Homo sapiens: one gene and its partners. The protein of the gene in region 2 interacts with the protein of the main gene of each other region in a pairwise test. Each region holds a gene or a part of one and is shown on either strand. Other genes may lie near its edges.

Region 1 (3,626 bases), on a different chromosome or scaffold from region 2:
AGAAAAGCCTCTTCGGTTTTTGAGGCCCACCTTGGCCCCAGGGTCTGTGCCCTCCCTGCCCCCCCAGCCCGTGCCCGCCTCTGGCTGCCCATGACCTCTGTCCCTACCAGGCTCCGCCCTCGGTTGGCACCGCCCTCGGTGCCTCCCACAAGCCGCCCCCTCGGTCGCCCCGCAACCTGGCGTGGGCCGCGGCCCCAACGCCCTCACCGCCTTTTTCTTCTTGCGGCTCTGCAGGCGGCTGACCACCAGGTCGGTGTAGAGCACGGGCTTGAGGCTGCGCGAGCGCTGCGGCCAGCCGTAGCACAGGGTCTCCGCGCCGCGGTGGGTGCGCCCGTAGCGCACGGAGCACAGCGAGCGCGAGCGCAGCCGCCCGGCGCTGCTGTGGATGCTGTTGACGCCGATCATGCTGGCCCGGCCGGCGCGCCGCGGCCCCCGGCCATGCCCCCGTCCGCCCTCGGCCCCCGGGCCGCCCGGACGGCCCGCGGACCGCTCCCCCGACAGCCAGCGCGAGCGGCGCGGCCCGGCCCGAGCCGGCCCGGCTCTCACGGACGCACGGAGTGCGCGGCGGCGGCGGCGGCGCTGTCTGCTCTGCGGCTTGGCTAGAGCGGGAGGGGGGCGCCGACGGGAAAGGGAGGGCGAGGGCTGGGGGCGGGGACCGCATGAAATGGAGGCGCCCGATCGCGAAGGGGGCCCTCCCCGCGCGGCCACGGGGAGGAGCCTGGGGAGGCCAGCGTGGGTGGCAGCTCCAGGGAGGCTGAGAGCACCGCTAGGCCTGGGGCTGTGACGCTGGGCGGACCCGGCAGGGTCTGGAACTCCCTTCTGGCTGGTCTGGGTTGGGGTGGTGGGAGGGGAGAGGTCGGACCGCTTCCCTGCAGCCCTTTTCCACTGAGCCAAGAGGGGCCTCGAGGGAGGACGGAGGCAGGGAAGGAACAGCCCTGGCCTCATCCAGCTCACCCGCAGATACCCCACCCATATATAGATCTGAAGTCACGTAACACACCTCGATTCTGACATACACCCCAACAAACCAGACGCACCAGTTCACGGTCACCCCAACTCGCAGACACTACCCATTCAGATGGACACTTCAAAACTTAGAATCTTTAGCTCACAAAGATACACCCCCTACTCAGAGGCATATGGCATACCTCAGACACGGCCAATTCGAAGATGTAAACCCCACCACACATAAACATCCAGCCTACACCCCAACTCAAACACACACTCTGAATCGTAAGCCCTAAAGCACAAACACACCAAGCCATACAAACCCTTGATTCACGACGCCCGGGCACACAGATGCAACTCAACTCAAGCAACACCCCAGCTCACCATGGACGTTCCCTCTCAGATATACCCCAAACTCAGAAGCCCAGCACCCCAAGCTCACAGAAACGCCCTAGGACAATCCTGTGCTGTTACATGTATGTAGTGGAGCAGAGACACCTTTGTCCTAGCCTGGGGGTTTCTTCAAGTGAGTCCAGGCCTCTCTAGATAAACTACCACCAGATCAGGGAGAGGAGTGAACCCACTGGATGAGCCACTCCCTTCTCCTACCGGCACCAGCCCCTACGTATCTGAGCCCTCGGTTGCGGGCCATGGAGCTGGCGCCTGGGAACGGGACCTGCTCACAGGGAGCCAGAAAGCAGTTTCTAGCTCCAGCTTTGCGCTAACTCGCTGCCAGACCTTGGAAAAGCTTAGTCCCTCTCAGGCCCCTCTCCCTCCGGGTTCCTGCAGCGCAGCAGCACCGGGAAGGTCTTTTTGGCTGTCCACGCGGCGGGGGAGCAGTGTGGAGTGTACCCCCATCCAATCCCTGTCCCGTGCAGGGACCCCCGCAACTCCCGCCTTCCACCCCAGCGCACACTGGAGGAGGGGAACTGAAGGCAAACGCAGGGGCCGGGGCCGCCTGCTCGCGTTTTCCAGAGCCGGGTCCCCTCCCCCGCCGTGCGCAGTCGCGACCGCACGCATGTGCGCATGTTCCGGGAGAGCCTGCGCGTGGGGCCTGGGGAGGGGGCGGTCCCCAGGCTGAGTCACGAGAGCCCGGGCTTCCGTGGCAGGAGCCGGGGGTCGGCAAGCCCCAGCCCTGCCCTCCCTCCGACTCTGGACTCCGTCGCCGACTGGGTCCTCCATCCTTCCCCTCCAGCGACTTCTACCCTGCCCCGCCCCCCACCTTGAGCAGCTCCCTAGGGAAGTCGCCGCCATCATTGAGGCCCTCCAGGTTCCCGATGAAGTCCCCGCAGGTCATGCGCTTCCCGATGTTCTAAGGAAGGGAACGGAGGCCTGTGAGTTTGGAGGGCCCTTGGCCTCCCAGGTCCTGCATGTCTGGCCAGGGGTTTGTTTTCCGGCTCCTGCCCGCCCGCCTCCACTCACATGGCCGTGGAGATCCGTGTTGAGCAGCATGAGCGCACAGGTCAGCGTGTGGGCGCCGTCTAGGGGAGAGCTGACTTTCAGCCTTGGCTGCCTCCCAGGGACCCTTCCCACAGCCATCTTCCCCAACCTCCCATTTCATCCCCACCCCCTTTGGCCGGCAACTTCCTACCTCCTGAACCCCGCTAGTAAACCCTCCCCACAAAGAGCTCCTCTTCCAGCAGATCCGTCAGCAAGGACCCGTCCCTGGCTCCCTCAAGTACTGAGGGCTAGTTGCCCCAACGTACTAGTTGCCCCAACGTTCCCTTGCCTCTAAGCCTGGACCACGAGAAAGTGAACCGCAGCACAGTCCTGTAGACCAGTGCAGCCAAACAGAATCCCCTCTCCAGCCAAGCACTGGCCTGCACAGGCATGCAAACTCCTGCCTCTTCACAACACACTCAACCCTAGCAATATGCCTGCCCACATGTATAGTTCCACATACATGCAGCCATGACAGCGCTGTCTGCACACATGCAAGTTCACATGCCTACACGCATGTACATCCATTCCCTGCTGTACACACACTCATGCTCCTGTACACACACACAGGGCCCAGCCCATTTTGCCACTGTGGCCAGCTAAGGACACCCCTGCTCTCGGAACTCCTCACCCTCTGAGGACAGGGCTTCAGGATTGCACTGGAAGTATCGCTGGGAGAAGTGGGCCAGCACGCGCTCTCGTTCCTGGGTCTCACCCATTAAGGCCAGCTCCTTCAGAAACACCCTGGAGAAGGGGCAAGAGAGGGTTGCCTAGCAACCAGGAGTTTCCAGCCTCTGTCTCTGGGGTGACAGGAGGCTTTGAGAGTACAGCAGCTGGGGTGGGAAGGGGAGGAGAGAAAGGGGATGAGGGTATGCACCCTGACCCTCCACCCATCACCCCTACCCAAGGTCCCTTTACCAGGCAGCTCTGGCCCTTGGCCATGCCCAGCCATCTTGGGAAGGGTGATGTCAGGACGGCTTGTGGGGGACAGAGGGGCTCAAAGGAGGCATCCTGGGGCCCTAACACGAACCCCGGAGAGTGGGGGCTGTCCTCCAAGGGGTCAACACCCACCTGAGAGCTTGGTCCAGAGTCATGCCCGTGAAGACAAAGAACTTGAGGTACTCCCCAGCCACCAGTTTGCTGAAGTCATTGCTGTGGGCAGGGCAGAGAGACAGGTAGGGTCTCAAGGGGAAGTGCAGGGGGTCAGGTGGGGATTACCCAATGACCAGGGGACATTA
Region 2 (4,197 bases):
TGACAGTCAGGACATTATATTGATTTTTTTTTGAATTTATGTGTGTAAGTAGGTTATATTATCTAGGAATTTTATTTCGGGATGGGAAAAGGGGGCAGTGCAAAAATACTCAATAAAAAAAATAGCCGGGCATGGTGGCTCACAGTGGCTCACACCTGGAATCCCAGCACTTTCGGAGGCTGAGGCAGGTGGATCATTTGAGGTCAGGAGTTCGAGACCAACATGGCCAACATGGTGAAACCCCATCTCTACTAAAAATACAAAAATTAGCCGGGCGTAGTGGCACGTGCCTGTAGTCCCAGCTACTTGGGAGGCTGAGGCCGGAGAATGGCTTGAACCTGGGAGGCGGAGGTTGCAGTGAGCTGAGATCGCACCACTGCACTCCAGCCTGGGCGACAGAGTGAGACCCTGTCTCAAAAAAAAAAAATTGGGTACCGGTCTGACGGGATTGAACTCCCTTGTTGTAGGGCCTCATAGGTCATTGCAAGGCTAGTGAGGTTGGAAAAGTGCAGGAAAAAAGTCACCATTACCCAGGCACTGTGGGGTTGCCCCTCTGGTCCCCATTTTGCCATTGACATAATGGGCGTCAGTCTGACCAGCAAAAGACTAAACTCCCCTTTTCCAGCCCTGCAATTCAAATATCCCAGATGGGGGTAAATCTAGGAAGGCCACCTGGAGGAGGGGAGGAGCAAAATAGTTCGTTTTTAGTACCTATTGTGTCTGCCATGCTGGCAGCTATGTGAAGCTATTTATTTATTTATTTTTATTTATTTGTATTTTTATTGCCTGGGATAGAGTGCAATGATGTGATCTTGGCTCACTGCAACCTCTGCTGCTCGGATTCAAGCAATTCTTGTGCCTCAGACTCCCGAGTAGCTGGGATCACAGGCGTGCACCACCATGCCAGGCTAATATTTTGTATTTTTAGTAGAGATGGGGTTTTGCCATGTTGGTCAGGCTGGTCTCCAACTCCTGACCTCAGGTGATCCGCCCGCCTCGGCCTCCCAAAGTGCTGGCATTACAGGTGTGAGCCACCATGCCCGGCCGATGTGAAGCTATTTATATCCTCACCACAATCTCAAATCAGAGGGGTGAAGTTACTTAGCTAGGGTCACACAGCAAGGAAGCTTTGGAACCCTGGTCTGAGCGATTTCCTGACAGGTCCTGGCAGATGAGGGGAAGGAAGGAGGGGGAGGAGCCCTCTGTGACAGTTGTCCCAGAAAGGGCATAAACAGGATGTGGTGTTGGATGAAACCTTCCTCCTACTGCACAGCCCGCCCCCCTACAGCCCCGGTCCCCACGCCTAGAAGACAGCGGAACTAAGAAAAGAAGAGGCCTGTGGACAGAACAATCATGGTCAGGGGCCAGGGGTTCTATGGGAAGAGCTGGGGCTGGGGTTGGGGCTGGGGCTTGGAGGACACCTGGGCGAAGGTCAGGCTATGGGATGGAGGTCACGGGCCGGGAAGGGGGCCCAACTGTGGTGAACAGCCCGGCTGGAAGAACAGAGAGACAGTGGCTCTGGGTTTAGGCTCAGGAAGTGGATCTCTGCACCTCCTTGAGTGTCCCCCAAGAGTCCCCGTGGAGAAGGCGGGAACCCAGCCTCTGCTCCGCCCCCCAAGCTGAGTGCCCTGGTGAGGGGTATCTACTCTGTGGGAAGGGTGCCTTTTCTCAATGTTCACAAAGGCATCAGATGGGCCGGCGCGATGCTCCTCTTCATTAGTGGATGGAGAAACAGGTTTGGGGAAGGGGTGAGGGCTGAGGCCAGGCCATTTCAGCTCTTCCTGGGTCCCTCCGGCAGTCTGACTCCCTGGTGGTGTGCGAGGTAGACCCAGAGCTAACAGAAAAGCTGAGGAAATTCCGCTTCCGAAAAGAGACAGACAATGCAGCCATCATAAGTGAGTGACATCTTCCCCCACAGAAGGATGGGAGGGCGGTGGTGAGGGCAGATAGGGAGGGCTGGGCTTGTGTCCCCCATGGATCAGGGGGAGTGTCTAATCCCTGTGTGCCACCCCTCCCCAGTGAAGGTGGACAAAGACCGGCAGATGGTGGTGCTGGAGGAAGAATTTCAGGTGATGGGCTGGGGTGATTGGGACTGGGAGGTACAGGGTGAGACTGGGAGAACCAAGTGGTTGGAACTGATATGAAGAGCCTGGCATGGGGGTAGAAAGACCTGGAGATTGGCCGAGCACAGTGGCTCATGCCTGTAATCCCAGCACTTTGGGAGGCCGAGGCAGGTGGATCACCTGAGGTTGGGAGTTCAAGACCAGCCTGGCAAACATGGTGAAACCCCATCTGTACTAAAAATATAAAAAGTTAGCTAGGCATGGTGGTGGGCACCTGTAATCACAGCTACTTGGGAGGCCGAGGCAGGAGAATCGCTGGAACCCGGGAGATGGAGGCTGTAGTGAGCCGAGATTGTGCCACTACACTTCAGTCTGAACCACAGAGCAAGACTCTGTCTCAAAAACAAAAACAAAAAACAAAAAAACAAAAAACCCTGGAGATCAAGTTCTAGCTCACTCATGACCCCCAGCAAGAGACTTTGCCTGTTTGTGTCTCTATTTCCTCATCTGTGAAATGGGGAGAATAGTACTTATCTCATAGGCTTGTTTTTACATCCAGTGATTTAATTCTTGTAATGGGTTTAGAACAAGGCCTGGCACTTAGTATGTGCTCAATAAGGTGATGATGATCTTAATAATGATGATAATAATGCTTTATTGGCATTTAAATGAAAGAGTTTCCATATAAGTTAAAAAGCTAGCCAGGCATGGTGGCTCATGCCTGTAATCCCAGCGCTTTGGGAGGCTGAGGCAGGAGGATCACTTGAGCCCAGGAGTTTAAGACCAGCCTGGGCAACATGGTAACACCCTAACTCTACTAAAAATACAAAAATTAGCCAAGCACAGTGGTGTGCACCTGTGATCTCAGCTACACAGGAGGCTGAGGTGGGAGGGTTGCTTGAGGCTGGGAGTTTTGAGACCAACCTGGGCAACAAAGCAAGACCCCATCTCGGCTGGGTGCCGTGGCTCACGCCTGTAATCTCAGCACTTTGGGAGGCTGAGGCGGGCGGATCACAAGGTCAGGAGATCGAGACCATCCTGGCTAACATGGTGAAACCCCGTCTCTACTAAAAATTCAAAAAATTAGCTGGGTGTGGTGGCGGGTGCCTGTAGTCCCAGCTACTCGGGAGGCTGAGGCAGGAGAATGGCGTGAACCCCGGAGGCGGAGCTTGCAGTGAGCCAAGATCGTGCCACTGCACTCCAGCCTGGGCGACAGACTCTGTCTCAAAAAAAAAAAAAAAAAAAAAAAGACTCCATCTCTACAAAAAAAAAAAAGGGGGTAGACCTCACCCCCCTGGTGGCCTCACTGTCTTTATCAATAACAAGAATGATAATAAGGCTTATTTCTCTAGTGTTGCGATAAGGATTTATAAGGGAATCCATGGAGACTGGGGGCTGGGGCTCTCTCAGGCCCTCTGAAAGGCAGTATAGTGAAGCAGTTATGATTCGAACCCAGATTCAAATCTCAACTCTGCTGCTTTCTATCTGTGCAATCTTGGGCAAATGCCTTAACACCTCTGGGCCTCAGTTTTCTCAGCTGTATAGTGGGCATAATGATGGGACCTACCCCACAGACTTACGGGATAGTTGCATGAATTAATCCATGTGTGTTTCATAGAACGATGCCTTGGCACATGGTAAGTGCTCACCTAAAGGTGGTCATTCTTTTTTTTTTTTTTTTTTTTGAGACGGAGTTTCGATCTTTTTTGCTCAGGCTGGAGTGCTATGGCACAATCTTGATTCACTGCAACCTCCGCCTCCCGGGTTCAAGCAATTCTCCTGCCTCAGCCTCCTGAACACGCCTGGCTAATTTTTTTGTTGGAAATGGAGTCTCACTCTGTCTCCCAGGCTGGAGTGCAGTGGCGCGATCTCGGCTCACTGCAACCTCTGCATCCCGGATTCAAGCAATTCTCCTGCCTCAGCCTCTCGAGTAGCTGGGACTACAGGTGCATGCCACCATGCCTGGCTAATTTTCTGTATTTTTAGTAGAGACGGGTTTCACCCTGTTAGCCAGGATGGTCTGAATGATTTCCTGACCTTGTGATCCGCCTGCCTCGGCCTCCCAAAGTGCTGGGATTACAGGTGTGAGCCACTGCGCCCTGCCTCATTCTTTGTCTTTTCTTCTGTTTTCTTG
Region 3 (4,135 bases), on a different chromosome or scaffold from region 2:
TGAGCCACCACGCCCAGCCCATTATGTTTTCTTTACATTAATATTAAAGTTCGCGTTCCAAATACTAAAGTTAAGTCAAATTATTGACTAAGCATTGGCCATTACAGGATCTACAAAGTGTGTCAACCCTGTATGGACAATCAAAAGTTGCTCTGCCTATCTGTGAATACCAGCTCCGCCACTTAATAGTTAGCTAAGGTTTGGTAGCTCACATAATTATCTCTGCTGCCTTAGTTTTCTCATCTGCAAATTGGGTGTAATGGTAAATACCTACCTCATAAGGTTACTCTGAGATTTAAATGAGTTAATACACATAAGGCACGTAGAATAATACCTGATCCTGGGTATACATTTCAGAATACCACCTATGATTACCATGATTATTATGTGGAGTAAAAACATCTTGATCATCACACTGTTTCTATCATTCTTCTAGGTCCAATGCCAGTGCTACAGTGGGAAGCTCCTTTGCAAAGAATTCCATCCCAGGCAGAAGGCAATGCTTTAGGACCCTAAGAGAGACCCATTCCCAAAGCTCACAGGGAACATGGCTGGAGTCCAAGAGGCTGTTCTGCCAGAGAAGCGCTCTGGCACCAGAGGGCAAATCCCCATTTTTCCCCAAGGTGGAAACCACCCACAGTCATCTCCAAACACCATGCTCCAGCAGGAGCCACAGCTTGGAGCCTCAGCAGCCCCGCCACTGCAGAGGTGCAGCTGCACGAGTCAGTCAGGGGACAGGGCATCAGTCACCCGGAGGCTACAGGCAGGAAGCCAGTGTGGGGGGCTCGGGTGGGAACAAGCCACGGACAGGAAAGCATTCACACAGGGTGGGTCCCCATGCTCTCCCATCTCCTCATTGGCGGCCACAGTGCGGGTCCTGGATGACAAGCAAAGGCCATGCTTTCTTGTCTCTCAGTAACTTGAGCATCTCAGAATCACAACCCCAAACCCGAATAAACCTCAGTGGCAATTTTCAAAAGTTTTGACCCAAACTAACCCCTTACCTGGCTGCACTAAGAGGCAACCCCAAACCCCTATTTATTAAAAAGCTACATCTTTTTCTGTTTTCATTCCAACAAAGATAGCAAATAGGTGCCCTCCCTGAAAGGCAACAACCACAGCAGGGAGACCCCACTCTAGTCCTCAGCGTGCGCCTTCCCGGGAATCAGAAGCAGGACTGGGAAAGCCACCCTCACAACTTCTCTCCGGGGGACCCCCTGCAGATCTGCGTGGGGGTGAGGGGAAATGACTGAACAGCAGCAGACGCCGAGCCTGGAGGTGAAGACAAGCTGGGTAATGTGGTGCTGGAAAAAAGAAACCAAGCACAAAAACAAGCACACGGAAAAAAAGGAGGAAGGAAAGAAAGGGCACCCAACAACGCACTGATTTATCCCATGAAATAGCTCCCCTTTCTCTTCCCAGCCTAATCAACACCTCCATGAACCCCTGCAAAATGGGCATTTCTGACTGCACACCTGTGCGTGAATCCACACTGACAGATACTGATGCAGAGCAAATACTGATTGTGTGAGGGAAGGAAATAACTTGAACTTCAGACTCATTCGGCAGGTCCTGATTCTCTTTCACTATCAGCCTCCCCACCTATTCTGAGCCGCTCCGAAACAAAACAAACAAGACCCAACTCCTGGGCAGAAAGGGAACAGCAGCTGAGCTGAGCAGCACATGCTTGGAGCGTTCCTGCCATCGACTTCGGATTATTTCTGCTTTCTTGAGACACAGCCATCAGCATGGGACTCGATGCAGCCCGGAGAGAGCACCGCCCGCGCAGCGACGCGCACAGACCCTCCCTTGGAGACGCGCTCCCCGGCGCGTGCGGCCGAGCCCGCGTGAAATGCACAGACCCTCCGGTGAGGCTCTGCCCACGTGTGACCCTGAGCACTGCGAAGCCCTTCCCTTCCATCCTCGCGTGGCCACCCAAAGTCTTGCCTACACCTCGTACGTGCAGATGCCAATTCCATAGAAATACATGATGTAAGGACAGAAATGGGAACGACTGGAGGCTGATCTTCTCGTGACCACGTCTCGCCAACGCGGTGCGCCCATGCACACGGCGAGTAAACGCACACAGCCGGTAAACAGCCATCCCCACCATGCTCAGCCCACAGTCACGCGTGGGGAGAAGGCAGCGGAGAGGGCGGCGGTGGCAGGAGAAGTGGGAAGTCGCGCGCCCGCGTGGGCTGCTCCCTGACAGCCCGGCGCTGCCCCCTCCCCCTCCCGGGAACGGCGCCCACCCGGGGGTCGCAGGCCCACGCGTCGGGCGCGCTCGGGGGGGCTCCGCAGCGCCGAGAACGGGACAATGAGGACGCGGTGACAGGCTGGGTTTCTGCCGCGGTAGTGGCGGCGGCGGCAGCTGGAGCTGCCCGTGCAGCCCCTGCCGCGGCCACCTCCACCCTCGCCTCCCCGGTCCCCACTTACGTTCCGAGGGTCTCTTTGAACTCGAAGATCTTCTTGATGTCTTCAGCTTGCTTTTTCCAGGAGGAGCTGCTCTCGCCGTTCTCCCGGGCCATGGCCGACGAGCGCGGCGCGGAGGAGCGGCCGGGGGCGCGCTGGGGAGGGGGCGCCGGGGGCGCGGCGCGGGCGCAGAGGCGGCGGGGATGCCGGGCGGCTCGGGCTGCGGCGCAGCTTCCTCCTCTGCAGTTTCCTCTTTCGCTCTCGCCGCCGCCGCCGCGGCCGCGGTCCCTCCCTGGCTCTTATTTCTGCTGTTCTCGGGCACAGACTTCCTGCCGCCGCCGCGCGCCGGCTCCTTTGCCGCCGCCTGCCAGCCTCACTTTCTGCTACTTTCTTGCCTCCCTCCCGCTCCCTCCCTGCCGCCCGCCGCGCTCCCCCCCACCTCGCGCCTCCTCCCCCTCCTCCCCCTCCTCCCCCTCCCGCGGGCTCCCCGCCCTCTCCGTGCGCCCCGGCCGCTCCCCGCCTCCAGCGCGCCGCCTTCGGGGATGTCCCGCTCCCCTCCCAAGAGCGCCGGGCCACGGCCGTCGTGCCCCCTGGAGCCCCGGCGAGGGCGGGTACGGGCCCCCGGCAGGTGCGGGGCGCACGCGGGAGAGCCCCAGCCCCTCCGGGAGCTGGAAACGGAGCCCAGTCTGGGGGCGCCGGGGCTTTCCCGTCTCCGGCGGGAGGGGGCGCCTCTGCGTGGCTCGGAAGCGCCGGGCGGGCGGGGGTGCGCGGCGGCCGGATGCGGGGCGCCGAGGGCGGGGCGCCTTCCCGCGCTGTGGCCTGTGGCCCGGGGGACCCGAGGGGCAAGGCGTGGGGTGGGGGGGGTGGGGGCCGGTTGTTATGGCGACGGGCGGCGGCGGCGGCTGGGATGGAGGCGGAGGCGGGCGGGAGCTCATTCGCATTGCACCAAATCGGTTTCACGTCAGTTTCGGGACAGACCCGCGAGGAGCAAGCCGGGGAGCCTCTGGGCGGGTACGCGCAGGACGCGCCAGCAGCTGCCTCGTGGTCCCTTTGCGAGCAAAACTCCCGGGGGTGTTTGGCAGCCGCGCGGGCGCCCTGGTGCTGGGCTGGAGCGGCCGGCGGGCCTGGCCGGCCTGGTTGCCCTGGCTCACGCTTGGCCCCTTCTGGCATCTCCCTGTCTCCTCCCAGAGACTCAGTGGAAAGAAGTGATCGTCTGCCCCGCAGTCCCCTCGAAGGAGGAGCCCACCCGCGGCTGGCTTAGTAGGGTGTCCGGGTTGCGGGGCAGGCACCTGCTTTCCTATGGACTGCCAAAACTAACCCAGAGAATTCCCTCCGGACTCCCATCTCCCAGCTGTACTTTGGCCTGCCCGCCCCACTCCTGGTGTCCACCTGTCAGAGGGCAGCCCACGTGCTCCAGTTCCCTGGTCCCCAACCTGCAGGGGCGACCTCTTGATCGGAAAATTTTAGATTTCTTGGTATCAACACTTCGCCTCCCTCAGGGCCTCTCCTCGTAGTTGGGTAAACAGCTCTGTCTCTTGACTGGGGACACCTGTCCCATTTTCCCAGGACTGTTCCAATTTCACTGTAAAAGGAAAAAAAAAATCTGCTCCCTGAATAGGAAACTTCATCCAGCACCTTGTGCCTAGTTCTGACTCTGGCTGAAGTGGAGGCAGCCCAGCTGCTCTCCCTCAGCCCCTACTCTGACCCTAAAGAGGTCAGACGA

Evidence for each region.
Region 1: the proteins of GMFG (region 2) and PSD interact in a two-hybrid assay, tested with the Homo sapiens proteins (one large-scale study listed by IntAct).
Region 3: the proteins of GMFG (region 2) and CAMK1D interact in a two-hybrid assay, tested with the Homo sapiens proteins (one large-scale study listed by BioGRID and IntAct).

What each region holds. Positions count from the first base shown.
Region 1 is NC_000010.11:102,408,688-102,412,313, forward strand, and holds part of PSD (PH and SEC7 domain-containing protein 1), read right to left. Parts: intron 3,541-3,626; coding exon 3,460-3,540; intron 3,133-3,459; coding exon 3,020-3,132; intron 2,430-3,019; coding exon 2,371-2,429; intron 2,261-2,370; coding exon 2,171-2,260; intron 591-2,170; exon of another isoform or gene 208-590; intron 1-207. UniProt on the Homo sapiens protein: Guanine nucleotide exchange factor for ARF6. Induces cytoskeletal remodeling.
Region 2 is NC_000019.10:39,333,133-39,337,329, reverse strand, and holds the start of GMFG (glia maturation factor gamma), read left to right. Parts: upstream 1-1,286; 5' UTR 1,287-1,353; coding exon 1,354-1,356; intron 1,357-1,775; exon of another isoform or gene 1,776-1,798; coding exon 1,799-1,895; intron 1,896-2,019; coding exon 2,020-2,069; intron 2,070-4,197.
Region 3 is NC_000010.11:12,348,212-12,352,346, reverse strand, and holds the start of CAMK1D (calcium/calmodulin-dependent protein kinase type 1D), read right to left. Parts: upstream 2,801-4,135; 5' UTR 2,529-2,800; coding exon 2,437-2,528; intron 1-2,436. UniProt on the Homo sapiens protein: Calcium/calmodulin-dependent protein kinase that operates in the calcium-triggered CaMKK-CaMK1 signaling cascade and, upon calcium influx, activates CREB-dependent gene transcription, regulates calcium-mediated granulocyte function and respiratory burst and promotes basal dendritic growth of hippocampal neurons.